Linked DNA regions of Homo sapiens. The protein of the gene in region 1 interacts with the protein of each later gene in a pairwise test. Each region holds a gene or a part of one and is shown in the gene's direction. Other genes may lie near its edges.

Evidence for each region.
Region 2: the proteins of WASHC3 (region 1) and SCARA5 interact in binary tests that used the Homo sapiens proteins (3 or more experiments, as listed by UniProt).
Region 3: the proteins of WASHC3 (region 1) and LHX4 interact in binary tests that used the Homo sapiens proteins (3 or more experiments, as listed by UniProt).
Region 4: the proteins of WASHC3 (region 1) and PHOSPHO2 interact in binary tests that used the Homo sapiens proteins (3 or more experiments, as listed by UniProt).

Annotation. Positions count from the first base shown.
Region 1 is NC_000012.12:102,051,962-102,059,003, reverse strand, and holds part of WASHC3 (WASH complex subunit 3), read left to right. Parts: intron 1-7,042. UniProt on the Homo sapiens protein: Acts as a component of the WASH core complex that functions as a nucleation-promoting factor (NPF) at the surface of endosomes, where it recruits and activates the Arp2/3 complex to induce actin polymerization, playing a key role in the fission of tubules that serve as transport intermediates during endosome sorting.
Region 2 is NC_000008.11:27,982,663-27,989,704, reverse strand, and holds part of SCARA5 (scavenger receptor class A member 5), read left to right. Parts: intron 1-2,074; 5' UTR 2,075-2,089; coding exon 2,090-2,201; intron 2,202-7,042. UniProt on the Homo sapiens protein: Ferritin receptor that mediates non-transferrin-dependent delivery of iron. Mediates cellular uptake of ferritin-bound iron by stimulating ferritin endocytosis from the cell surface with consequent iron delivery within the cell.
Region 3 is NC_000001.11:180,275,234-180,279,496, forward strand, and holds the end of LHX4 (LIM/homeobox protein Lhx4), read left to right. Parts: 3' UTR 1-3,751; downstream 3,752-4,263. UniProt on the Homo sapiens protein: May play a critical role in the development of respiratory control mechanisms and in the normal growth and maturation of the lung. Binds preferentially to methylated DNA.
Region 4 is NC_000002.12:169,697,465-169,702,246, forward strand, and holds the end of PHOSPHO2 (pyridoxal phosphate phosphatase PHOSPHO2), read left to right. Parts: 5' UTR 1-67; intron 68-400; exon of another isoform or gene 401-518; intron 519-3,481; 5' UTR 3,482-3,507; coding exon 3,508-4,233; 3' UTR 4,234-4,244; downstream 4,245-4,782. UniProt on the Homo sapiens protein: Phosphatase that has high activity toward pyridoxal 5'-phosphate (PLP).

The DNA of each region.
Region 1 (7,042 bases):
GTTGTACTTTTTTATCCTCCATATATAAGTGAGATCATTCAGTATCTGTCTCTGTTTGACTGGCTTATTTCATTTAACACAATGTCTTCCAGTTCATTTATGTTGTCACAAATGACAGGATTTCATTCTTTTTTAAGGCTAAATAGTATTCCATTGTGTATATATACCACTTTTTTTAATCCATTCATCCATTGATGGACACTTTTGATTCCGTATCTTGGCTATTGTGAATAATGTTGCAGTGAACTTTCAAGTACAGATGTCTCTTGAATGTACTAATTTTACATCCTTTGGATATATACCCAGAAGTGGGATTGCTGGATCATATAGTAGTTCTATTTTTAATTTTTTGTGGAACCTCTGTACTATTTTCTATAATAGCTGTACTAATTTACATTCCCACCAACAGTGTACAGAGGTTCCCTTCATCACATATATGGTTTCCAAATATAGTCTCCCATTCCATAGGTTCTCTTCACTCTATTGATGGTTTCGTTGGCTGTGCAAAAGCTTCGTAGTCTTTTAAAATAATTTTTAAAAAATAATTTAAAATCCAGATTCTACAAACTTCTTAGTGTGATGTAATCCCATTTATTTATTTTTGGTTTTGTTACCAGTGCTTTGGGGTTTATATCCAAAAAAAGTCATTGCCCAGACCAATGTCGTGCAACTTTCCCCTTATGTTTTCTTCTAGTAGTTTTACAGTTTCAGGTCTTACATTTAAATCTTGAATCCTTTTCGTGTTAAATTTTTTTATATGGTAAAGGATGAGGGTCTAATTTCATTCTGCATGTGGATATCCAGTTGTCCCAAAATGATTTATTGAGACTGTTATTCTTAACATCTGTGAAAAGTATGTTTCTGTAACTGTCTTTTCTGTGTTCTTAACATCTTTCTCAAAAATCAATTGACTTTAAATGCATGGATTTATTTCTGGGCTCTTTATTCTGTTTCCTTGGTCTATGGCTGTTTTGATTACTGTAGCTTTGTGGTAGATTTTCAAATCAGAGAGTGTGATCTCTCTGGCTTTGTTTTTTTGGCTTAATATTGCATTGCCTGTTCAGGGTCTTTTGTGGTTCAGTATGAATTTTAGGATTTTTTTTTCTATTACTGTGAAAATATTATTGGAAAATTGATAGGGATTGCATTGAGTCTGTAGATTGCTTTGAGTGGTGTCAACCTTGTAACAACATTCATGTTTCCAATCCATGAACACACGTTATCTTTCCATTTATTTGTGTCTTCTTCAATTTTTTTCATCAATGTGTTATAGTTTTCAGTGTACAGATCTTTCACCTCACTGGTTAAATTTACCCCTATGTATTTTTTTTGTAGCTATTGTAAATGAGATTTTTTTTCTTTTTTTTCAGATAGTTTACTTTTAGTGTATAGAAATGCTACTGATTTTTGTATGTTGATTTTATATCCTGCAGCTTTACCAAAGTAGTTTGTTAGTTCTAACAATTTTTTGGTGGAATTTTTTATAAGATTTTCAATATATAAGAGCATGCCATCTGCGAACAGAAACAATTTCATTTCCTTTTTTCCAATTTCAATGCCTTTTATTTTTCCCTCTTGTCTAATTACTATAGCTAGGACTTCTAGTACTATGTTGAATAGAAGGGGTAAGAGTGAATATCCTTGTCTTGTCCCTCATCTTAGAGGAAAAACTTTCAGTTTTCACCATTGCGTATGATGCTAGCTGTGGGCTTGTCATAAATGGCCTTCATTGTGTTGAGCTAGATTCTTTCTATACCTAATTTGTTGAGAGTTTTTATCATCAAAGGATGTTGAATTTTGTCAAATGCCTTTGTTCCATCTATTGAGATGATCATACGGTTTTTGTCTTTCATTCTGTTAATGTGATGTATCACCTTTACTGATTTGCATATGTTGAACCATCCTTGTATCCCAGGGATAAATCTGACTTGATCCTGGTGAATGACCTTTTTAATGCGCTGTTGTATTCAGCTTGCCAGTATTTTGTAGAGGATTTTTGCTTCTATGTTCACTGGGGATATTGACCTTTGATTTTCTTTTCTTGTAGTGGATTTGTCTGGCTTTGGAATCAGGATAATGCTGGCCTCCTAAATTGAGTTCGAAAGTTTCCCCTCCTCTTCAGTATTTTGGAAGAGTTTGAGAAGGATTTGTATTAGTTCTTCTTTAAATGTTTGGTAGAATTCAGTAGTGAAGGCATCAAGTCCTGGGGGTTTTGTTTAGTGGGAGACTTAACTACTGATTTGATCTCTCTACTTATTATTGGTCTGTTCAGATTACCTATTTCTTTATGATTTAGTCTTGATAGGTTGTATGTGTCTAGGAACTTATCCATTCTAGGTTATCCAATCTGTTGGCATATAATTGGTCATAGCAATCTCTTATGAGCCTTCATATTTCTTTTGTTTTAATTGTAAAGTCATGTTTATTGGAGTATGAACTTATATGCAGTAAAATTTACCATTAAGTATGAGATTGGACAAATGCATAATCATACCATAATCAAGATGTAGAATAGTTGTAGAACAAGATATAGAATCACTCCAAAAATTCCCTCATGCTCCTTTGCAGTCACCCCTTTTTTATCCCTAGGAATGCATTGTTCTGTTTTCTGTCAAAAGGGCCAAATTTAATCACTGCAATGGTCTCCAGTACTGTGGAAAAATTCCTGAGCATACAAAACACACAAACCAAGTTTTTAAAAAATGAGATACTTTTAAAAATGTCTTTAGCATATCAACCAAATGAAGGTAGCTTCATATTTTACTACAGATGCTCAGATATCTTAGGCAGAATTAAGTCCACCATTGCCATATATATGCCTCAACAGTAATATTTAAGAGTAGACTGTAAAAATAAACTTACAATCTTTAGAATCGTCAAAACAATGGGATTATTAAATGACCTTTGTAAGTTAAAGCAAAGTTTATAAAGTTGTCTTACATAGTTGTGAAATAGCTAGTCTAGTTAGATAGAATTAACGTCTCCTAAAACTGACCTGCTTGAAGAACTACTGTAGGTCATGTCTTTGTAGGTAGAGTATGTGAACGAAGATTAAGTACTTGCTCTTTTGTGTTAACACTGTGTCAAGTTTCAGACTGGGGCTGGTTGATAGAAAAACTAGTTAAAAAAAACTATTTTAAATAATGGAATTGAATTTTATGGAAATTCTCTGTGGCACCAACTCAACCACAGGACAGAAACAAAAAATTCTCATCTAAACATTCCTGTAGAAAATTGGGACCATCTAAAAATTCACCCCAGCTACCACCATGAAAGAAACAAAGAAAGCAAAAACTTCTGTTCTGAATATATCAGTGGTCCCATATTCAGATACTTCTTATCTACTTGAAAAGCTTTGATGGGTGGGGCACGGTGGCCCACACCTGTAATCCCAGCACTTTGGGCCCAGGTGGGCAGATCACCTGAGGCTAAGAGTTCGAGACCAGCCTGGCCAACATGGTGGAATGCTGTCTCTACTAAAAATACAAAAATTAACTGGGCGTGGTGGTGCACACCTGTATTCCCACCTACTTGGGAGGCTGAGGCAGGAGAATCACTTGAACCTGGGAGGTGGAGGTTGCAGTGAGCCAAGATTGCGCCATTGCACTCCAGCCTGGGTGACAGAGCAAGACTCCATCTCAAAAAAACAAAACAAAAGAAAAAAGAAAAGCTTCGCTGATTCTTTCAAACACACATCAGACCTTAAGTTCATTAGCATTTATAACGTCACTGAGCTGCATTGAGCTCTGTGGCTGAAAAAGCCAATTCTTTGTATTTCTGTGGTATCAGTTGTAACATCTCTTTCGTTTCTGATATTATTTGAATCTTCTCCTTTTCTTAATCTAGCTAAAAGTTTGTGGATTTTGTTTTTCTTTTCAAAAATCCAGCTCTTAGTTTCATTGATCTTTTCTATTGTTTTTCTAGTCTCTTTCATTTTTTTCTGTTCCGATCATTATTATTTTTTTCCTTCTACTAACTTTGGGTTTTATTTGTTCTTCTATTCCTTCAGTTGTAACACTAGGATGTTACACTTTGGATCTTTCATCTTTTTTGTTATAGGTCTTTACTGCCGAAGCTTCCTTTCCTCTTAAAACTGCTTTTGCCACCTCCCATAAGTATTGATGTGTTGTATGTCCATTTTCATTTGTCTCAAAATACTTTTAATTTCGTTTTTAATTTACTTGACCTATTGGTTGTTTAGGAGCATGTTATTTAATTTCCAGTTATTTATGATTTTTTTCAAGATTCCTTCTATTATTGATTTCTGGTTTCAAACCAATATGGTCAGAAAAGATACTTGATACGATTTCAGTCTCCTTAAATGTATTAAAATTTGTTTTGTGGCATATCATATAACCTGGAGAATGTTTTGTGTGCCCTTGAGAAGAATGTGTATTCTGTTGCTGTTTTATTGAATTTTCTACATATGTCTGTTAGGGCCAGTGTTTCATTATTGATTTTCTGCCTGGATGATATGTCCATGGTGTTTGTAGAGACGGCGTCTCACCATGTTGCCCAGGCTAGTCTCAAACTCCTGAGTTCAGGGGATCCTCCCGCCTTGGCATCCCAAAGTGCTGGGATTACAAATGTGAGCCACTGTGCTGAGCTCTTTTCCATTCTTTCACTTCAATCTATGTGTGTCCATTTTTTAAAGGTGAAGTGAGTCTCTTGTACACAGCAGGTAGTTGGGTCTTATTTTTGTATCTATTCAGTCAATCTGTGTCTTTTGATCAGAGAATTTAGTCCATTTACATTCAGGGTAATTATTGATAGATAAGGACTTACTGCTGCGATTTTGTTCATTGTTTTCTAGTTGCTTTATAGATCTTTTGTTCCTTTCTTCCACTCTTGCTGTCTTTTGTGATTAGATGATTGTCTCTAGTGATATACTTTGATTCCTTACTTTTCATCTTTTGTGTATTTACTATTAGGTTTTTGCTTTGTTGTTCCCATGAGGCTGACATAAAACATGTTATAACAGGCTATTTTAAACTGATAATAACATAATTGATAACATAAAAAACCTCTGCACTTTTACTCCACCTCTCCACATTTTGCTTTTGATTTTGCAACGTATATCTTTTTATACTGCATATCCCTTAACAAGTTATTGTAGCTATTATTATTTTTAATAGTTTTGTCTGTTAACTTTCATACTAAAGATATAAGTGATTTAATCACCATGACAGTATTAGAATATTCTGAATTTGACTGTATACATTTTTTTTTCAGCTCTAAAATTTCTGTTTGATTTTTTAAATAATAATTCCAATCTTTCTGTTACATTTCTCATTTTGGTCATTTATTATTTTCTTGATTTCATTGAATTGTTTCTCTGAATTTTCCTGAAGTCCACTGAGTTTCCCTAAAACAATAATTTTGGATTCGTTGTGAAGAAGGGTCAGTTACTGGTGATTTGTTTCTTTAGTAGTGACGTGTTTCTCTGATTATTCTTGGTCTTTGTGGCCATGTGTTGGTATGTGTGTGTTTGAAGAAGTAAGGACTTACTCCAGTCTTTGCAGACTGGCTTTGTCTGGGAAAGCCCTTCACCAGTAAGCTCATCCAGAGGTTCTAGACAGGCCATCTGTTGTGGTGCATGGCAGGCTTGCTGCTGGAGTCCTTGGGTAGGCTGGCCTGGTGCCTAGGTTCGTAGGGTTGTTCCTGGAGCCTGATCCACTGGGGTGGACCTGCTGATTAGCTCTATAGGGGTGGGCCTGGATCCTTAGGGTTCCAACTTGAAGCCTAAGTCTGCAGGGGTTGGTCTGGCACTGGGGTGAGCCTTGAGCCTGAGTCTGCAGTGTCTGGCCAGGTTCCAAGGTGGGCCTGGTGCTTGGAACCCCTGGGGTGGACCTGGAGCCAGAGTATGTGGGGGTGGGCCTGGGTCCTGGTTGTACTGTGACTAGCCTGGAGCCTGAGTCTGCAGGAGTGGTCCTGCAGCCTCCGTCCATGGGGGCCAATCTGGCAATGCAATCTACTGGGGTGGTCCCAGACTCTGGGTCTGCTGGAACATACCTAGACCCTGACTCACCACAGGGATTTGTCTGGGGCCAGCTTGGTGCTGGGGCAAGTGTGCAGCCTGGGGTCACAGGGGCCAGACTGGAGCCTGAGATTATAGGTGCTGGCCTGGTAACTTGGGCTACATGGGGCTGGCCTGGGTCCTACGGCAATAGTGGCTAGCCTGGAACTTGAGTCCACAGGGATGGTCCTGGAGCCTGTGTTTATGGGTGTCAGCCCAACAGAAGGGCCTACTGGGATGGGCCTAAACCCTACTTCCACTAGGGTATGGGCTGCAGGAGCCAGACTGGGGCCACAGGAGCTGACTTGGCACTGGTCAGGCCTGGAACCTATATCTGCAGGAGCTGACCTGGTGCTGGGGTGGGCCTGAACCTTGGGCCCATGGAGGCTAGCCCTGTGCTGGGATTGGTCCAGAACCTAGGGCCACTGGGGCTGGCCTGTCCCTAGAGCAGACCTGGAGACAATCTATGCAGTCTTGCCTGGTGCTGGGACTGTCCTGAGCCTTGAGCTGGTCTGGAACCTACGGTCCCAGTGGGACAAGCCTAGAACTCAGGACTGGGTGATCCAGCCTAGTGCCAGGATGGGCCTAAAGGCTTCGCCTGCAGGTGTCAGCCTGGAGTCTGGGCTGAGGGGGCTTGCTCAGCACTGAGTTCTGCTGGGGTGGGCCTGGTGTTGTGGTCCAAGGCAAAGTCCTGTGCTCACTGCCTCTCCTTCGCCCACCTGGAGGGTATCTCTCTCCATGCTGTGCTGCCTGGAGTTGGGGGAAGGGTGACATGAGTTCTGTAAAACTGTCCTTCTTACCCTCTTCAGTGTGTTTTTTCTTACTTTTGTGCTAAACCCAGTGCTGTAATTTCTCACCTGGTCTCCTTAGCTCTTGAGAATGTATTTTCGTGCGTGAATAGTTTTTCAAATGGATGTTTCTGTGGGAGGATCAGTGCTGGAAAGTCCTATTCCCCCATCTTGCTGTTGTCCCACCTTTTTCTCCTTTATGTATGATAATCTAGGGTTGACTGTAACTGATTGTCTA
Region 2 (7,042 bases), on another chromosome or scaffold:
AGAGATCCTGGCAGAGCCGAGGACCACCCCCTGTTCCATCCCTCCCATAGGCTGGAGGAGAGGCCCGCAGATACTGGGAGCCCCAAGGCTGTGTGTGTGCACATGCGTGTGTGTGCCCGTTATGGGGGATGTACAGAAGGGCTAACAGCAGAGGCGTCCAGCCCTCCTGGGTCATTAGAAGGACATGTATACAGTGACTGGTCAGTTCTGGTCTCTTCTCAGCCCAAATGTCAGAGGTCTGTGGAGGCCAAGCTCAAGTCATGAAAATAGGGGCTTCAGCTGGGTGCAGTGGCTCACACCTGTAATCTCAGCACTTTGGGAGGCTGAGGCCAGTGGAGCGCTTGACTCCAGGAGTTCCAGACCAGCCTGGCCAACATGGTGAAACCCCATCTCTGCAAAAAATTAGCTGGACATGGTGGCTTGTGCCTGTAATCCCAGCTACTCAGGAGGATGAGTTGGGAGGATCACTTGAGCCCGGGAGGCGGAGGTTGCAGTGAGCCAAGACTGCACCACTGCCATCCAGCCTGGGCAACAGAGTGAGACCCTGTCTCAAAAAAAAAAAAAAAAAAAAAAAAGAAAGAAAGAAACAGAAAAAAAAAAAGAAGAAAGAAAATACGGAATTCTTGTTTTGCTCTGCTGCAGAGCAACCCCGCCAGCCGCCTTCCCTGATTATGTCTATTTATGAAAGTTGCCACGCCTCCTTGCCCACCCTCCCTCTGAAGAGAAACTGATTGACTGATCTCTCAATCAACAGGCATTGTCCCCCCACTGCCACCTGCCAGCCCTGCATCCTCTCCTCCCAGCCTCCTCTGGGTTGAAGGGTTGAGTTTGCTCCATACTGGGCCTGGGACCCATCCTCATGGGGCTTTTATCTTCTAAAGGATGCTGTTCTTTGGTTAAATGTCCAGATAGTTAAAGAGAATCAGAAGCAAAGGTCAAGATAAACTCATGGCTGGAACCTTGATGAAAGTAGAGAATAATTTGTAAAGTCACTGAGCATTTATGTGACAAAAACAATATCAAGAAATTGATGTATATACTTTGTAATTTGGCTTAAAAAACAGATTCTTCTCATTACATAAGGAATGTAAATGCATCATAGAAAACCCAGAAAATCTGAAAGCAAAAAGGAATATTAAATCCCCACAATCCCTTCCAGCCAGAGTCCTGTAATACATTTCTCACCCGGAGCCATCATAGCGTCTTACATCCACACGCACCTTACGCGTGCATGTCTTACAAAATGGGATCGTGTTGTACACATTGTTGCGTCAACAGGCTGTTTCCTTTCAAAGAGCATAGGATTCTCCTAAGTCAATGTATATGCTCCTGGACCATCATGGCGTAGACCCAGAGACCCAATGAGTCAGCCTCTGGGGGCCATGCAGACAGAAGCCCTCCCTGGCCTAAAGCTGTCCAGATGCTTAGTGCCTGGGTGTCCCTTCAGAGGCTCCCTGCTCCTCGGGCCCCACCACAGTAGATGAATCCCTGCTGTGGTCCTACTGAGCCAAGCTCCTTCCAACATGCCAGCCCCGTTGGATTTGGGAGCAGTCCTGGTCTGCTCAGCTTTGTTTGCAAGTGGACTCTGTACCCCCTCTGAATGCCCCTTCATATCTAGTTTCCTTCCTTCATTTCCAACACAGAACAGAAGCTCAAGTCTCTCTGGCATGCCCCGGGCTTCTGAGGGCTCAGAGCCTGCTCTCAGGTTACCTTTTGAGTCAGCAGGGTTCCCTCCTCCTGGCCCCACCCAGTGTAACCCACAGTGACCCCAGCTCAGGATTCCAGCCCCACTGAGAGTTGTTGAAAGGAATGGACACATCCCACCATCAGAAAGGCCCAAGGGCCTTGGTCTTCTGAAGCCCTGAGGAAGCTGGGAGTGGGGGCATCACGGCCCCAAGGACCTGGAGGATGGCACCTGGGTCCTGGTGATGAGCAGAGGGTCCCGGTGTTCAGGCTTAGGGTCAGGGGTGGGCACCTTGTTCTATCCATTTGCTTCTGTTTCCACCTACAGTTGATTCTCTGTCTCTCTCCCGGCCTTCGTCCTCCCTCTCCTCCCCTCTTGCCTTCTCTGCAGCTGTTGCAGGGTGTGATGGAGAACAAAGCTATGTACCTACACACCGTCAGCGACTGTGACACCAGCTCCATCTGTGAGGATTCCTTTGATGGCAGGAGCCTGTCCAAGCTGAACCTGTGTGAGGATGGTGAGTGCAGCTGGCTCAGACTTGGGGCACAAGATCTGGCCTGGGGGTGGGGAAGGAGCCCTACCACCACCCAACCTTGGCATTGCCTTTAAGTGCTTGTGACCTCCTCATGTAATAGTGCATATATTGAACTTTATGCTTTAAAAGGTCTTCTCCATGGGTTTTCTCATTCATTCACTTCCACAAACCTGTCAGCAAGATGAGTACTCATTTTACAGATGGACAGATTTCACAGTCCATCAGTCTTATGGTGGTCCAGCATGGAGCCTCCTGACTCCGAGGGCCATGCTTCTGCTCCTGAGAGAGTGAGACTCGGGTCAGGCAAGGGCCTCTGAGCCAGTCAGTGCAGACCCTCTCAGGTGAGGAGAGGGGCCTCCCACCCACTTCCTGAAGCACTCGTGAGGGGCAAAGAGCTCTCCAAGGTGCTCATCCTGCCCCTGGGTGCAAGGCCCTGGTCTTGCCACAGAAAGGGGTCCCCAGGCCAGTGACCCAGAAGGCCTTGCATCTCAGGGGCTGCTTATTTGCTAAAACCCTGGAGATCCAAGTGATGCAGCTTCCTTTGGAGGAGCCCAGAGCGCTTTTCCACCAGCTTGGCTCCTGTGCACCCAGTAGATGACTGATAAGTTCTTGCTGCATGCAGCACATGTCAGAGAGGAGAGCATTGCCCCCACGTCAAAGAGAAATAGAATGAAGCTTACTGAGGAGCCTTGCAAAGACTTCCGGCCAAGGAGAGACAGGCCTTTTCCTCTCTTGTTTTGCTCCACTCTGCCAACTGCCTCTTGAAATTACTCAAGAGCAATGACTCCACTCTTCTCTTCCTCCGACCCTGCATTCCTCCCACAAGGCGCTGAGTGTAGGGAAAGAACCGTGGTGGCTTAGAGTGGGGAGAGTCTCTGCAGGCAGAGGACACAAGGAGATTTGGGCTTCTGACCAATGAACCTGCTCACCCAGCCCTAGGATTGTCCACCATGGTGGCTCTTCTTCTGGATTCCAATTGACAAACATATTTTGAGGATCCACGACGTGTCAGGCCAGGGTGAGCAGCCAGGGATTCTCCAAACACAAATTAAAAAATCTCTGTCCTCAAAGGGCTTATGATCCCAGTAGAAGAGGCTGGCATGGGAACAACTGCCTATAATATACAGTAGGCCAAAATGTGTGTGAATAATAAAGTCAGGCGAGCAGAGGGCTTTCTGGAAAAGGGCTGGAAGACTGAAGGAGATTGTCTAAGAGAAGATGTGGGAAAGATATTCCTATTTGTGTGACACCAAGCTGGGTCAGGTTTCTGTAAGGCTCACACCAGTCAGGCGGAGGAGAAGGCCTGGGGTTCTGGTCCCATGCAGAGCTCCCATCAGTCCATCCGCAAAGGGGAAGGTGGCATCCATATCCACTGGCACATCAGCAAAGGGGCTTGGTTTGGCAAGAAAGACTGGGTACAGCACAGTGGGGTGATTGGAGAGGACTATCAGGGCCAGCCTGGGGGGCCTCAGGGGTGGGAGGGGTCAGATGTCCCTGGGACCACCATACCCACTTCCTAGTACCTCATCTTACTCTCCCTTTTTCTGAACCCCAGATTGTTTTTTTAAAAAGCTCATTTGGACCAGAACGACTGGAAATTAACAGCAACCCTAGCCACTGCGCCTTCTGGGCCCCTCCTCTGTGGGGAGCTCTGTCAGAGGGCACTTTGGGAGCCATGCTAGCCATGTCCTGTCCCAGGGTTCCCTGATGCTAGGGCCCAGGTGCAGGGCAGACAGCAGAGGTTGAGAGGTGTGGAGTCCAGGCTGATTCGTGCCTCCTGGGCCTCTGTGGGCCTCAGTGTACTCATCTCAGGCTGACTCGTGCCTCCTGGGTATGTGACCCTCTGTGGGCCTCAGTGTACTCATCTGCCAAATGGGGATGCAGGGGGTTATCTCTGAGGTCCTATCTGGTTCTAGAATTCTGTGTGTAAAATTGGACCTGGCCATTGAATTAGGAGTGTGGCCCTTTTCAACCCCAAGTTAGAATATGATACTATGCTGGGCAAAGCATGGCTGTGGCTCCCACTTCAGCAGGAGTGAAAACTCGGGTGCTGACAATGTGCCCAAGAGGTCCTGTGCCTCTCCCCTCTGTGCTGCCCCAACCTTGGCAGGGAATCTCTGACTTGCTCACCTGGGTCTTTTGCCCTTAGAAGGGTGCTTCCCTGGCATCCCCCAGTGTGCATTACTGCCCCCTCCCACTTGGTCCATGCTCTCACCTCCCCCAGGACTTAGCTCAGCTCCCACCTTCTGCGAGGCCTGAGTTTCCATCCCCCTTTCCCTGACTCTTTTTTCCTTTCTTCCGTGGTCTGACTTCCTCATGACACTGTAGTCTCCTTATTTACATGTATCATTTATTATCCATTCCCTGAGGCAAGAATATAGGCTGGACCACAGTAGGCATCTCTGTTTTGCTTATTGATGTCTCCTGAGCCCAGCATACAGTAAGTGCTCACTAGGCATTTTTTGAATGAATGGATGAATGGGTGGATGGATGAATGAAGGGAATAGATGGATGGATGAATGAATGGATAGATGGATGAATGAATGGATGGATGAATGGGTGAATGGATGAATGAATAAATGGATGGATGAATGAATGAGTAAATGAATGAATGGATGGATGGATGGATGGATAGCTGGATGGATGAATAGATGGATAGATGAAAGGATGGATGAATGGATGGATGAATGGGTGAATGGATGGATGAATGAATGAATGGATATGTGAATGAATGAATAAATGGATGAATAATGAATGGATAGATGGATAGCTGGATGGACGGATGAATGGATGGATGGATGCATGGATGGATGGGTGAATGGATGGATGAATGAATGGATGGGTGAATGAATGGATGGATGGATGCATGGATGGATGGATGAATGGATGGATGAATGAATGGATGGGTGAATGAATGGATGGGTGAATGAATGGATGGATGGATGAATGAATGGATAGATGGATGAATGAATGGATAGATGAATGAATAAATAAATAGATGAATGAATGAATGGATGGATAAACAGAGGGGTCCTCGAAGTCTAAATGTGGCAAAGCATTCACCATCTACACCTGATTGCCGAATTCTCTGGGTCCATCTTCATTCCTGGCTGCCAGGTTGGGGGCTGGAATATGGGGAACCCAGGCAGAGTAGAGTGTTGAGATGAAGCCAGTGACTTCAAAGCTTGTGGGCTTCCAATTTGATTTTTCCCCCTTTTCCTTTCATTTCAGAGAGGAAAATGATGAGCTTGACTTGGGGAAATTCAAGCCAGATTTGATCTGTTTTAGAAACCCTTTAGAAGGGTTTTGCTGCATCTTTGATCCTTATCTCTGCGGAGTGAAATGGGAGAGGAAGAGGAAAGGGTGGGGCCAGGCAGGGAGGGAGGAGGGGGAAGTTGGGAAGAGATGGGAAAGGAAGGGAGAGCCAGCACCCTGAATCCGGTCAGGGCCGCCCTTGAGCCTTTATTTAGTAAATGAAGACGGTGAAGTGTGAGGTCCAGGACAAGCTCCAAGTCCCTTACAGGTCTTCCTCCTTCAATGGAGGGCGAGAGGTGGGAAGAGGGGAGGAGAGATGGCACTTCTTGTTGGAGGCTGGCCATGGGGATAGTGGGATCAGGGGAGGCAAAGTCCCAAAAGTACAGCCCTGACATGAAGGTAAGATGCAGCCTTCCCTGGTGGTGGGACCTGCTGAGTCCCGGGTCCGGTCACTGGCAGGCTCCCCAGTGTTCCTGCTGGGTGTGATGAGCTGCCCCACTCTCATGGCCCATGTGCTGTGGAGTGCAGGACTCATCTTCACTGAGACCGGAGAGGTCAGGACTGTGTTTTGCTCCTCTGGGAATTCTTTCGGGACCTTGTAGGTGGCAGATGTCCCAGAAGTCTTTGTGATTGTTGGTAAATGATGTGGTAAGTCCACTCAAGTCATCAGTGGTGGAGCTGGAACCGGACTCTGAGTCTCCTTACCTGAGATGCAGGCTCCTTCCCAGGATGGGGATTTCACGGGGTTGGACTGATGGTGCCAAGGAGTGACTCCCCTCACTTCTGGATTTGGAACCAATTGGGAAATAGACAAGGAGGCATGTGGGAATCCAAGTGCAGAATCTGCCTTAAGCCTGGAAAAGCTCTGTTCACGATGTGGCTGCTGGCACCCCCAACAGACACTCACCCAGCCAGCAAGCGTGAGTGCCCCTGTCCAGGCACCAGCCTTCACCTGGTTCACCCACACACGCCCTCCTGCCCATCCACCTGAGAAACAGGGACAAGAAATGCCAGGTTACAGACAGCTCACCCATTGGACAAGGTAGCACTTCCTGCAGGCAGAAGTGCTGAGGAGTCCCTCTTTTATGGGCTTGGGCAGGTGGTCAGTCCAGAGATGAAAGGAGCTCCCTGCAGCCACCACCAGAGGTGAGAGCAGGAAAAGCAAGAGAGGAGGTGAGGGGACACCCTTGGGGTATGGGCTGAGTGGGGGCTCGATGCCCAGGGAGCTTCCTCAGCGCAGAGGAAGGGACCCTCCTCTAGCAGAGCAGCTCCTGCAGGCACCGTTCCACTCCTGCACCGGACCTGCTGTTTTTTTCTCTTTCCTTCTCGCCCCTCATTTCTCTTCACCCTCCCTGCCTTTATCCCTTCCCTTTCTTCACTTGCCAGGTGAGATGGGAAGAGGAGGGACTGTTGGGTGCCTTGGTTCTCTGTCCCCTCCCTGAGCAGCCATCTTGCCCAGCTCCTCCAGCTCGTCCTGTCCCTGCATCCTTCAAGGCCCCGCAGGTACCCCTTGCTCTCTGATGCCTTTAGAGCCTCCCTTCTCTGCATGCCTGGGCGGGGCCACCTCT
Region 3 (4,263 bases), on another chromosome or scaffold:
TATCATTGACTCTGATGGCAAGAGGTGGTTTTCATTGCAGGTGACTGAGGCTGAGCTGAGTAGCCCTGGACCACCGCTGCAGATTGCCTGAGTCGTCCCCTTGGTGCACAGTGTGCCTTCTTCAATTGCTTGTATCATTTATTCCACAAGACAGGCTGTGGGCTGTAAAATGAGCAAAACTAAAATGTGGGGAGAACAAAATGACAATCAATCAGTGAACATTTGTAGACACATTTGGATTCCAAACCTGCAGTCTGTTCAGCCATATCGGCTGATGCCAGTCTTCCAGAGTTCCCCATCCCTTGTAGGGTGAAATATTTGGAGTCTGTTTTGAAGGAGTTGGTTTAGATGAGCTTGCAAGTCTACCCCTCTGAAAGCTTTCTCTGCTGTCCTAGCTGACTCAATTGGAGGACAGTTTTGGTCATTTCCAGGAACCAGCAATTTTTTTTTGGCCTACCTTGGTTGGGAAGAGTAATTTAGGGAGCAGCCCTAAAATTGTCCAAAGGGTTCTAAGTGGTTCTTGGGCTGCATCTCTCTGGATTGCTGGCTGGACACCTGCCATGCCTTGGGCTGCAGTCCCATGGTCAGAAAGCCAGAACTCTCTGGCCAGTGGTGGTGCAGGGACTCCCCGTTGTGCAGGTTTGCAGTAGCAAATCACTAAGCCTGAGGCCAGAGCAAGGCCAACCCCCGCTTTACGAGTTGCCACTCCTGCGACAGACTGCACTGCTGTGGGAAACGCTGTCCTGAATGGTGCTGCAGCTCCCACCCACCTTGTGCACCCATCTACCATCAGGAAGCTCTCCATGTGCAAACTGGAATTTAGCCAGCTGGAATTTATTCCTGTCCCTCTGGGAAGCTGTGTTTGCTTCTTCTGGCCTCCCATTCTCTTAAATGAGATCAGCAGAGTAGGAAAGGGTGAGAAGGCATTGCCTATCACATGAAGTGATGGGGCCAGAGACCCTAAGGACCCTTCCTTCTACGAATGGTTGGTCACCTTTTGAGGACTGCAAAGACTTAGGCATGTCATAGGCAGACTAAAGGAAGAATACACAGTTCCTCTTGGACTGCTACATCTTTTGTAAGCCCTTTTCCAGGACTAAACTAAGTTCAATTAAGTAAGTTCTTTAAAACAGTAAATTCCGGGATCAGCCTTCGGGCCCTCTTCTCTGACCAATTTTATAGCGTACCCTCGTTTTTTGGTGTGCTGCAGTGGTCATGATTTTTGCTTGAGAAGTCTGCAAACATAGACACTTCTCTTGAGGTTCCATGTTTATGGATGATGTTGTGTTAATCCTAGCCAATTCTGTGCTATTGGGAATTCTCCAATCATGAACACTGGGGTGGGGAGGAAGACACAAATGCCATGTGAGGAAAGGAAAATGCAGTCGTCTTTTTGGAGGATGGCTTTTTAAATACACCCTTCTTAGCAGGCTGCTTAAAATACACAGGAGAAAAGGCTCTGCTGGGCAATGAACCAGATGAAAAGCTGCCCACCCAGATCACTGTTGCAGGTTGACTATTTGGCTTAGCAACTCATGGGATTTCAGAGGCCCTTGAAGTTTTTGGTGAGTATAGTGTGGGGGAGAGCAGGCTTTTTAAAAGGGGGGGGGGCATCCTCCTCTGTGTAGCACTGTTTAAGATCACTGTAAGTAAGTTGACCAGTTTTTGTAAGTTAATCATACTAATTCCCAGTTCAATAGTGGAAGGAGAGGCCTTCCTCATTTATACTAATAATATAATAAATCTCTTGAGGAACTCAGTGAGCAGTTGACGAGGTCAATAGTTCTTTGGCATCAGTAGGGCTGGTTAGCTGGAAAAACCCTTGAGAGCACTGGCCTGAAAACCAGGAGAGCTTTGTTTTCCAGAGCCACCTCCCCAGAAAGCAGCAAACACTGCTGCCTGTTTAGAAGCACAGCCACAGTAGGTCTAAGATTTTAAATGGATCTCCCTACAGGTTGGGTTAGCATTATGGGTGGGCTGGTGCCACTAATGAGCCATTGCATGACAGGACTCTTCTGGGGTTTGGAAATGGAGAAAAGCCGGGCATTCATTACTTTTAGCTTCTCTTAGAGGCACTCCTCTGTTGCTTGGAAGTCTATTATGGGGTATAAGGTGCTACATGGTAGCTGTTTCCCCCCTTGCTAAAATGACATGGATGAATTTTAAAAATGAAATGAGACCTTCTAGAGGCAACCATTATCTGCAGTGCCTGGCTGGTCGACTTTAGAGTAGGAAGCTCTTGAATCCAGGAGCAAATTAGTTAAAACCCCAAGTTCCAGTGGTAACTGGTATAAGCAAAATGGAAACTGAGGGGCTATGGAGGAATCTCTGTTTGTTGGAACGTAATGAAACCATGGAGGAAATACCAGATTTAAGGGCTAAGAAGCTGGCCCGATGGGTAAATCAGTGTTGGGAGTCAGGTTCTTGGCCCTTCAAGGACTTGCTATGCAACCTCAGGCAAATTCCTCTCAGTCTTTGTGCTTTCTCTTTCTTGTCTCATCTGACAGTTATGAATATAACGTAAAATAAAGATCAACTATCATTGATAACACTGTTCCTGCAAATGAATACTGTGAAACATCAGGGAAAGAGGAAAAAATTAAGCCACAAGAAAACCATTTGGCAGTGTCCTTAAACTTTTTTTGGGGGGGGGCAGTGTAAAACATGAAACCTAGTAAGATAATTGGGCCATTAGATCTTCATCATTAAACTCACTTTGCAAGGAAGTGTAAGAAATCTGTAAAACAAAAGACATTCCTATCTCAGAAGCTCAAACTGGTGATTTCCAACTGCCTCTTTACAGGAGGGGGCTCAAGGCTTCTGATGAGCAAAGGCTGTGTGTTGTATGACAGTCCACTCTCTGCACCTACACTTCCACGTGCCACGACTGACAACTTGGTTATAACCATGAAAATAATGACCATACCTCCCCAGCCAGCAGGGTCTGGAAGGCCTGAGGAGGCTCATTTTTAAACACTGCACTTTAAAAATTGGAAACCGTGAGATGAAGAAAAATTCAATTAAGCGGAAATGAGTTTTGTTTTATTGCCTGCTGCTGAAGGGCTCTGGGCATGCTGAAAGCTAAATGAAAAGCACATCACTGGCTCTCTTCTTTCTTGGATTGGTCAATTGGCCCTTTTTGCAGTAGTTGCTCCAACTGTTCTAAACAGTGAGTGACTGGAGCCAAAAAGAGAGAGCTCAGCAAAGCCATCCCATCCACACTCTGCTTGGTAGGACCACACTAAAAGCACAGTTTCATGCTGCTAGCTCTGGTAAGGAGACAGCTGCAGGTTTGGGAGGTGCACCAAGCATTCCTTTGCTTAGGGAGGCAGAGCACAGGTGAACAGAGGAAGGACACCCCCACTCTCATCTATTGCCCACCGAGAGGCAAGAATCACACCAACTTTCCCACTTGAGGACTGTGTTCGGCCAAACAAGCAGGTTCAGGGCTGCGGGATTCCAGAAGTTGCTCTGAGCTTGCAATCAGACCTCAAAGCCCCAGATCCCCTCAGCTCTGGATCGTTGCCCTCATCCTTCACAATGTAAATTTTGTACAGTTAAAGAGAAATGAAGTCTCGTTTCCTGGGGAAAAAAAAGAAAAAAAGAAAAAAAAAAGACCCACCCATCCTTATTTATTGCCATATGACTTTGGAAAACAGAAGCTGGTGCGTTTGTTTGTATATGCCTCCTGTGTGTTGGCATGAGATGTGTACGGTAAAATTATGTAAAATAAATATGGAAATTCTTTAGATGCTGATGTGTCTTGCTTTTCATTTGGTTTGCTGGAAGTTTTTTCTCTTGACATAAATAGAATAAAAACTGAGTGATGTGAGGTCCTTTCCTTTTATCATCAGAAGGAAACCAAATATACAACTCTGAATGCCAGAACTATTATACTTAGAGCCATGAAATACCAGAACCACTCAATAAAGGACTGATTAGAGGAAGTTCCCTGGTTTTTCTAATAGTCATTTCCTGGGCACGATCCTCTGCCCCCAGACTTAGGAAATGAGCAGTAGAAATGTTGACCATATAACTTTTAGTTCCTGTTTGTTCAGTGGCATTTTTAAAATTTTTTTTTGAGACAGAGTCTTGCGCTGTTGCCCAGGCTGGAGTGCAGTGGTGTGATCTCAGCTCACTGCAACCTCTGCTTCCTGGGTTCGAGTGATTTTCGTGCCTCAGCCTCCAGAGTACGTGGGATTACAGGCATGCGCAAACACGCCTGGCTAATTTTTTGTATTTTTAGTAGAGACGGGGTTTTGC
Region 4 (4,782 bases), on another chromosome or scaffold:
AGATTGTCATGATTGTTTATCCTAATCCCAATGCTGAAGTAAGATTGTCTTGGAAATACTAAGTTGGGTAAGTATTTTTTAAAGGTTTATGTTGAGTGGTGAGAAAATACTAACAGAAAAAGATGGGAAAATTTTAAAAGTGCACTTTCAGATCAGCAGGGGAACTATGTTACCTCAGTCTCATGCTATTTTGAGGCTAATAATTCAGGAATTTCAGTAATTTGTGGCTAATTAAGTTTAGGTTTGAGGCAGTTTTCAAACAACAGTGAGTTACATTTGAAATTTGTTTTAATTATAAATTCAGAATTCTCAAAAAGCATATTTAATTTAAAATGTGCCTAGTTACAGTACTACTGTGATTGTCAATTATGCCTTATTATTTATTACATTGTTTCTGTAGGAAAGTGAATTCTGCATTTAAATTTCAGGGAACCAGTCAGAAGCATCTGGATTAGGCATTTAGTGATACAAGGATCCAGAATAACAAAAACTATGTACCAGCCACATTCACACAACAGGTGATACCCCTATAGGTTAATTATTCTCTAGATATTCTAAATTAAGAGACACAGAATACTTAGTCTTATGTGAGTCAAGAGCTCTATTCTGTCTTCACTACTGGGTGTCTACTGTTATAAACTGGAGAATATGTGTGGTTAAATGCCATGTTTTTCATTTTTAATTGATCTTTTTCTTATTGCTGTGGTTCTTTGCCTTTTTAGGATTTCTTGTAAAAACCTCAAAATGGTTATAAAGAGTATCACAGATGTGGTGTTATGGTTAGTGTGTACTTTGAAAGTAATGAATGTTTTTATGTAATTAAATATCTTTCTGCCAAAATTACCTACTTAGTGTTATATTTTTAAACTAATGAGTAGTCATTAAATATTCTATTTTTTAACACTAGAATTTGGTACTTAAAAGCATGAAGTCTGGAATCAAATCAACCTAAGATTCCAGCTCTGGCACTTTACTAACACCTAACCACTTCAAGATCCAGCTTATATATCTTTAAGATGAGGATAATAATGATTCCTACTTAATAGGGTTGTGACAATTAAATGGTATGATATTGCAAAGTTTTTAGGTCAGTGCCTGACATATAATGACTCTCAAAATTATTATTATTATCTGTTTACACACATTAATTATATCCTTTTCTGGATATTCTATATAGTTATTTTTTATAAATAATGTTTATTCTTACCATCAGTTGACCAGCTTATTCTTTCCTTTTCTCTTGAGATTTATAATTAATCACCTTCATTATATTCTAATGAAAACAGAGACATAAGTAATTGTCACACCACAAACAGTATGATTACTCAGGTGTATTCAAATTATTTGGCACCCCAGAGCTAAACTATCTAGAGCAGCTATAAATAAACATGTGAAAACTCTTAACCAAGTTACTTCTAGTTTGGAAGAATTAAATTGGCCTCCAGTTCTCAGGTAATTTGTTTAGAATATCATATAGAGTGTCAGCAATCATTTACTTATAATATTGATATTTAGAAATTGATTTTAAGCTAAATACTTTTTTAATTTTTTTGATTTCCACCTTTTAAGTTCAGGGGTACATGTGCAGGATGTGTAGATTTGTTACATAGGTAAGTGTGTGCCCTGATGGTTTGCTGCACAGATCATCACATCACCTAGGTATTGAGCCCAGCATCCACTAGCTGTTTTCCTGATGCTCTGCCTCCTCCCACCCCCACCCTCTGACAGGTCCCAGGGTATGTTATTCCCTTCCACGTGTTCTCATGATTCAGCTCCCACTTATAAGTGAGAACACATGGTGTTTGGTTTTTCTTGTTGTTGTTCCTGTGTTAGTTTGCTGAGGATAATGGCTTCCAGATCCATCCATGTCCCTGTAAAGGACATCATCTCATTCCTTTTTATAGCTGCATAATATTCCATGGTGTATAAGTACCTCATTTTCTTTATCCAGTCTGTCATTGATGGGCATTTAGGTTGATCCCATGTCTTTGCTATTGTGAACAGTGCTGCAGTGAACATACGCTTGCATGTATCTTTATAATAGAATGATTTACATTCCTTTGGGTATATACCCAGTAATGGGATTACTGGGTCAAGTGGTATTTCTGCCTCTACGTCTTTGAGGAATCACCACACTGTCTTCCACGATGGTTGAACTAATTTAATTTACACTCCTACCAACAGTGTAAAAGTGTTCCTTTTTCTCCACAACCTTGCCAGCATCTGTTATTTTTTGGCTTTTTAATAATAGCCATTCTGACTAGTATAAGATGGTATCTCGTTGTGGCTTTAGTTTGCATTTCTCTAATGATCAGTGATGTTGAGCTTTTTTTTCATATATTTCTTGGGCACATGTATTGTCTTCTTTCCAGAATTGTCTGTTTGTGTCTTTGCCCACTTCTTAATGGGGCTGTTTGTTTTTTCTTGTAAATTTGTTTAAGTTCCTTATCAAGGAACTACATGATTCTTATCAAAAAGGATTTTGGACAGATTTTATGGGCAGAGTCTTTAACTATTTGGGAGCTAAAGGTGTAAGAGAAGATAAAATGAAAAGAGCAGTGACATCGATGCCTTTCACTTCAGGGATGGTGGAACTTTTCAACTTTATAATAGTTGCTGGATATTAGACCTTTGTCAGATGGATAAATTGCAAAAATTTTCTCCCATTCTCTAAGTTGTCTGTTTACTCTGTTGATAGTTTCTTTTGCTGTGCAGAAGCTCTTTAGTTTAATTAGATACCATTTGTCAATTTTTGCTGTTGTTGCATTTGCTTTTGGCATCTTTGTCATGAAACCTTTGCCTTTGCTGTGTCCTGAATTGTATTGCCTAGATTTTCTTCTAGGTTTTTTATAGTGTTGGGTTTTACACTTAAGTCTTTAATCCACCTTGAGTTGATTTTTGTATATGGTGTTAAGGAAGGGGTCCAGTTTGTTTTCTGCATATGGCTAGCCAGTTATCCCAGCACCATTTATTAAATAGGGAATCCTTTCCCCATTGCTTGTTTTTGTTACTAAATACCTTTTCTTAAAAAGTTATTTTACATCTTCCAAGATTTCATGTTATGTTAAATTTGTTCAGAATTTTGGTTAGTACACAGAGAGTCCTTTATACATGATCTGTTATTTAATATGAGGATTGTAAATATTTTAATCTAATAAAATAAGTGTGGTTTGATTGATAATTTAATGATAGTAAGAAATGCTTTTTTTTCTTTCTTATAAATTCTATAAGAAACACACCTCCAGGAACACAATAATACTATGAATGTCCTTTTTATATATTTTGTTTTCCACTTAAAATACTCAAATACGAACTTTGCTTCTTAGAGAAAAGTGGTTAGGTAGTGGTCTTGAAGTGCTTAATTACTTTGTTTATATTCCTCCCTTTAGCAGATTAACATTTAGTTATGTTTATTAAATAAGTATTTTAGCTAGATATGTAAACAGAGTTTGTTTAGGGAATAATATTTCTTCTTTTTCAGGGTAATCCAAATCTATTTCTGGAACCATGAAAATTTTGCTAGTTTTTGACTTTGACAATACAATCATAGATGACAATAGTGACACTTGGATTGTACAATGTGCTCCCAACAAAAAGCTTCCTATTGAACTACGTGATTCTTATCGAAAAGGATTTTGGACAGAATTTATGGGCAGAGTCTTTAAGTATTTGGGAGATAAGGGTGTAAGAGAACATGAAATGAAAAGAGCAGTGACATCATTGCCTTTCACTCCAGGGATGGTGGAACTCTTCAACTTTATAAGAAAGAATAAGGATAAATTTGACTGCATTATTATTTCAGATTCAAATTCGGTCTTCATAGATTGGGTTTTAGAAGCTGCCAGTTTTCATGACATATTTGATAAAGTGTTTACAAATCCAGCAGCTTTTAATAGCAATGGTCATCTCACTGTTGAAAATTATCATACTCATTCTTGCAATAGATGCCCAAAGAATCTTTGCAAAAAGGTAGTTTTGATAGAATTTGTAGATAAACAGTTACAACAGGGAGTGAATTATACACAAATTGTTTATATTGGTGATGGTGGAAATGATGTCTGTCCAGTCACCTTTTTAAAGAATGATGATGTTGCCATGCCACGGAAAGGATATACCTTACAGAAAACTCTTTCCAGAATGTCTCAAAATCTTGAGCCTATGGAATATTCTGTTGTAGTTTGGTCCTCAGGTGTTGATATAATTTCTCATTTACAATTTCTAATAAAGGATTAATATGTCAGCAATTGAAAAGTGTATCACTTAAGATTAGGTTCAGCAGCATAAAACTAAAACCCCAAATACCAGAGGCTTAAAAAAAAAAAAGAGAGAGAATTTTTTTTTCCTCTCACATGAAAGAATTCCAGAGGTAAGTATTTCAGGGTTGCTGTGTTAGTCTACCAACCTCAGCACTTGGCATTCAACCCATGATCCAAGGTTGCTGGTGAAGCTCTAGCCCTCACAGCAGCACTCTGGCCAGCAAGAAAGAGGGCAGTGAGAAAGTTACATCCCCTGTCTAAAGAAATTTCCCAGAAGTTGTACCCAACACTTCTATTTAAATGTCACTGGCCAAACTTAGTCATAATGCCTTACTTGTAAATAGCAAGGAAGGATGGAAAATATAGCTTTCATTCCAGGTAGTCATGTGCCCAGGAAAAGTTGGGGAAAAAAGTACAGAATTGAGTTAGGTACAGCTAGTGGTCTCCACTAAAGGTGGTTGATAGTTTATATTTTTTAATTTATTCCTGGAGCAAGTAAGCATATTTTATTCTCTTAGATATTCCT